2 separate regions of the Homo sapiens genome follow, and region 2 is linked to region 1. A link means that fine-mapping ties the variant in region 1 to the expression of a gene that starts in the linked region. Tissue or cell type: pancreas. Region 1 holds a variant in brackets; the other region holds the start of a gene. All regions are shown on one strand. Distances are between the middles of the regions.

What was found. PIP is the estimated chance that this variant, and not a neighbour inherited with it, causes the effect.
Region 2: VTCN1 starts here. The variant in region 1 is fine-mapped to the expression of VTCN1 in pancreas (GTEx, PIP 0.94).

What each region holds. Positions count from the first base shown.
Region 1 is chr1:117,241,795-117,244,480 of GRCh38, forward strand. No RefSeq gene overlaps it. Among named protein-coding and RNA genes, the nearest start is that of VTCN1, 32 kb to the left of the region's middle. The variant G/A (reference allele first, on the strand shown) is at 1,515.
Region 2 is chr1:117,209,908-117,212,593 of GRCh38, forward strand. It overlaps VTCN1 (V-set domain containing T cell activation inhibitor 1), which reads right to left and starts at 1,020. Exons shown (of 6, transcript NM_024626.4): 1 at 917-1,020. The coding sequence starts at 948.

The DNA of each region.
Region 1 (2,686 bases):
GCTTTTCAAAGTGTGATCAGCCCAGCACCTGCATCCACATCTTCTGGGATGCTGCTTAAAAATAGATTCCTGGGCTCAACACTGAATCTTCTCTCGGCAGAGTGGAGCCTGAAACCTGCCATTAAATAAGCTCTCCAGGTAATTCTTGTGCTTGATAAGCTTAAGAACCACATTTTTAGATTTTAGTAATTACCTTTACTGATTGCCAGATCTGTGTTTCCACCTCTTGTTTCCAAAGCATCCCCAAGGTTTGTTGATTCTGCATCTGAAGCATCTCTCAAATCTGTGTGTTCCATTCACATTTGCGGTCTCTTACCTGGCTCACAGCTTTATTTGAATCATTACAATAGCCACCGAGCTAGTATCTGTGATCTTTCTAAACCACACAGCTAACCCATGTCATTTTCCTTTCTAAAACCATCAGTGGTTTTCCATTCTCTCCCCTCGGGGTCCCGTTTCAACACTTTTTAAATCCTCCCTCTCTAACAAGAATCAGTTTATGTGCCAATTTCTCTGGAAAATTCTCAGCTGAATGGGGTCTCCGCTCCCACTTTGATGCCCGAAGAGCTCTGTCATCTCTTAAGGTATTTATTCACTTTACCTTTAGTAGAGCTATTTATTTATCTGTCTTATTTCCTCAAATCATGTTCCATGAGTTCAGGAAATGCAATTCATTCATCTTTTTATACTCCAAAGCACTTAGCCCAATGATTGGTACTCAATAAATGTTTGTTGAATGAATGATTGAGCTCATGTTTGGTTCAAAATATAGTTTTTCATTCTGTGTTTTTTCTCTTCCAGTAGTTAAAAATGAAACCCACAAGATAGTAATTCAAAAAATGTTGTTCATTCATTTCTGCTAAAAGAAAAACACTGACAGCCAAGCACTGACACTCATTTGTGATAATCATCAATTTAGATATTGCAATGAATTTCAAAAACAAATGTATCATAATCAAGGAACATAAAACCATTTACTAAGTATGACAAAGGACAAAAAACCTTTGCGTCCCCAATCATGGTCACAAAACAGGATTCAAAATGAATGCAAAGACAAGCAGCCCTTTGTGAATATTCAATGTGTAATATAATTTAAATATAGCAAGGGAGAGAGTTGACACTCAGAACTCCACTCCTCAAGGTAACTTTTCCTTGTTCTCCAGTTTGCAACAATTTTGCCTTCTCTTAGGCAGATATAAAGCTTGGGTGTACTGAGTGGATTTGATCACCTACACCGATCCCTGCCCATAGACTGTCTTCACACTGCAAGTCTGTTTCTACTGCTGGGCTGGGGGAGATATGTCTATGGCATTACAGCTGGGAGTGTGGACTTTTTTTCCTAAGAAAAAGATGCTATACATGAGGCTAAATAAATCAAAATAAAATTTTGAAGAATCCTATTTACTTATTTATTTATTGAGGTGGGGTCTTGCTATGTTGCCCAGGCAAGAGTGCAATGGCTATTCACAGGTGTGATTCCACTACTGATCAGCACAGGAGTTTTGAATTACTCC[G/A]TTTTTAAACTGAGCTAGTTCACCCCTCCTTAGGCAACCTTGTGGTCTTCCATTCCCGGGAAGTCACTATATTGGTGATGAACTTAATGCAGACACCTGATCAGCACACAGCACTGCAGCCCAGGAGCAAGCTCAAGCGATCCTCCTGCCTCAGCCTCCCCAAGTAGCTGGGACTACAGGCATGAACCACCATGTCTGCCTTAATAATCTTTTTATATTTAGGGTTAAACAGGCTCTTAGAATCTAGCCTGGTAACCTAACCATATAGTCTCAATGGTTTGGGCAAAGGCATTTTGAATTCCTACCAAGAGATGAACTTTTGAAAAACTCTCTTTCTGGACACATAAACAACTGGATAATGTTCTCCCCTTTTCTCACTTAGTCCCATTGACCTTGCAAAATGGCTCTTGGTCCTGTGGCTTCTGTCCTGGGAATATGGAAGAAATTACAATTAGACATACCATTTGCTGAATTACGCTTGAAACCCCACAATAGTGGCATTTCTTACAAAGTAAGAAAACCAAAAAATGAAGCTGTACAATAATAAAGCATTTAAGATAATTTTGGAAATGTTCTTCCTGATATTCGTTGCCGTTATGTTCTATTCATCTGTGCAAAGACAATATACTTCTCACACAATTAATCTGAAACCTATGCTGTTGTTCTCATTTGCCCTAAAATCATAAACTCACAAGGTTGGAAGAGCCCTTGGTGAACATCTGGCTAAATGCCCTCGTTTTGCCTACAAACACAATGAAATTGCTTTAGTTTTATCTTTGTCATAAATTTGATACATCACAAATATTCTGAATGCTTCCCGTGGGTTACAGATGTAGCCCATTGGGTTCTATATTGAATGAGTTTTGTTTATAAAATTGCAGGAAGAATTAATACATGGTATCTCTTTAGATAATACAGGACAAAAAACAACGTCAGAATCAATTTTATAAAGCGGTATTCTGGAAATAAAAGACAACAGACTCAAAATTTTAAATTAAAACTCTGCATGAAGGAAGAATAAATAGGAAAAGCACTCCTATTATTATTATTTAACCTCAGGAGGAATGAATGACTTAACTAGTGGTTTCACTCCCAGACTCCTTGGTACTTTAGAGACACATTTAAGCTTGCATTTAACTTGTTTGGAAACTAGCTTAGTAACTTGAGCAAAC
Region 2 (2,686 bases), 32 kb before region 1:
TGAGGATTCCTTTCCTCTCTCCTTCCCTCTCTTCTTTTCTTCCTTTTGTGGGAAAAAGAAACAAATTGGAGGACTGGTCCTTCAAACAACCTCTAGAACCAACAAGTATCAGCCTCCCTAAACACTGTCCTGAGTTGTGACTGACACTGAATCAATCATTTCAAGAAAACCCTGCACTTTCCATCTCTTTCCTTCCAGGAGGGTAAATGCTGTTCTGAGGGAAAAAGAGGCAACTAGAATGTAGCTCAGGGGAGAAGCAAAAGGTAGGGGAGGGAACTTGCTTCCTTCTTCCTCTCTGGGGAGTTCAGCAGCAGCAGCAGCAGCAGCAGCAGCAGCAAGTTCTCCTCTCCAAGGAGCTCCTAGGAAAACTAGGGACCCAACCTTTGAGCTGGGGGGGCCTGGGGAGGGGTGTTGGTGTGAATTGCTCAAGAGTAGCAAGAAATCACACCCACAGAGAATGAAAGCACATTCTCCTCCGTCCCCCTGGGGGCTGCATAAAGGGTCCTCCTGCATCCCCTCCACTGTCGCAGTCATGGATTCCCTGCCATCCCACCATGCAACCCACACCAGCCTGCTCAGTGTCCCCATGGTGCTCACAGCCTTGACATCTCAGGGGAATGCCCAGCTTGGCACGTACTCCCCTCAGTCCAAGCTGCCCAGCAAGCGCCAGCCCTCCATGGCAGGCCACCAACCAAAAACCTCCCTAACCCTGAACAGGTGCCTTGAGCAGCTGAGGTGGGATGTTAAGTCAAATCCAGTTAGGCTCTTGTCTGGCCAGGCTCCCGCTGGCCCAATGCTGGATCAGATAAAATTACAGGTGGGGTCCTATGGGACAGCCCAGCAGTGCTCAGCATCCCCAAAAGACCTCACTGCTGTTCCCTTCACCCATAAGGATAGAGAGAAGAGTATATACTACCTCCAGAAGAGGATCTGCCCCAGGGAAGCCATGGCTGGGGAAGGTTCCCAGCGTATCTGGGTACTGGCTGAGTGGAGCTGCCGCTGCCTTCCTTGGTGACTCACAACCAGCTCCCGTGTATTGGCCTTAAATAGTGTGTTGAGGCCGGGAGTGGTGCGTGCAGCTGTAGACGGCTCAGGTATGAGGAAACTGGCTGTGCAGAATTCCCTGCAGGCACAGTGGCTGCCTGCTCCGGCCAGCCAGCCAAGCCAGGGGCTCAGAGCTGCCTTTCCAAGTCTTGACTTTGGGAGGGTGACGAGGAAAAGCTTCCCTGGCCCTTGCTTCAGGGCCTGCATTCAGCAGGACTTTCCTCCTGACTGTGGAAGGGAGCTGTAGGGAGGGAGATTTAATCTCAAAATAAGAAAGGACTGGAATAGCTCAAAGTGTCAGGCTATGCTGGGAGCCTTGGGGCCAGGAGTCCCCATCTCTGCTGGTAGATGACGCTCAAACAGAGGCTGGGTCACCATTGGTCAGGTCTCTCGTGGAGGAGACTCATGCTGGGGGACCTCAGGAAGGCCATGAGCTGAAGTGACAAGACCACTGAGTTTGTCACTCAAGACTGAACTTGCCTAGGTCTCCTGAGATGCCCAGCTGGGTGTGCAATTCTCTTCCAGCTTCATTTCAGTGGGAGCAGGAGAGGGCCAGCACTTCCCACCTTGCAATTTTTTTGAGACTCCAAAAAGACACTGAATGTGCTCTGCTTCAACTGCCCCTCTCTCTGGAGATCCCAATACTCAGAAGCTATTGCTGTCAAAGGTGAGTGGGTTAGCAAAAATCTCTGACATTTCATCCAGCAGATTGCCAACTAGGCAAGATTCTCGTTAAAGCCTAAACGTTGCTCTCTCTCTCTCTTATTCTCTCTCTCTCTCCTTATTGTTTCCTCCAGCCCCCAGAAGTACCTTGGATGGGAAAGTTTCATGACTGGTTGCCTGGCTTACTGCTGCTGCTGACTGACTATGTTTGCAGTGAAGGTGCTCCAGGCCTTCAGCAGCATCCTCCTAGTGTTTGCGTATGGGCAGGTGGAGCAACCATTGAGTAAAGATGGAGCAGAGAGAACTGAGTGGTGAAAATAAGGCAGCAGGAGAGGGCAAGGTCACAGTGGAAAGACCTTTAGAGTCAAACAGCTAGGTTCAATTCCTGGGTTCCTAATTAATCATGTGGCTTTGAGAACATCACTTTACTTCAATGTGTGTCTCACTGGGTTGCAGTGAGGGATAAATGAGAGGCGGGTCTATGTGCTTTCCCTTCCCCAGAATAAGTAAAGGGTGATGCCCTGGAATCTATGCAGTGCCAGTGCTGAATGGTCACTTCCCGGGTCTGGGGAAGCTGAGGGCAGTGGGAGCAGTGGTTTCTGTAATTCCAACCAAAGGCACAGGGATTCTGCCCTACCCCTCAATGAGCCTTAAGAAGAGCAGCTTCAGCTGGGCACAGTGGCTCAAGCTTATAATCCCAATATTTTGGGAGGCCAAGGTAGGAGGAATTTTTTTTTTTTGAGACTGAGTCTCGCTCTGTTGTCCAGGCTGGAGTGCAATGGTACAATCTTGGCTCTGTAACTGTAACCTCTGCCTCCTGGGTTCAAGCGATTCTCCTGCCTCAGCATCCCAAGTAGATGGGATTATAGGTGCACCACCGCACTCAGCTAATTTTTGTATTTTTAGTAGAGACGGGGTTTCTCCATATTGGCCAAGCTGGTCTCGAACTCCCAACCTCAAGTGATCCACCCACCTCGAC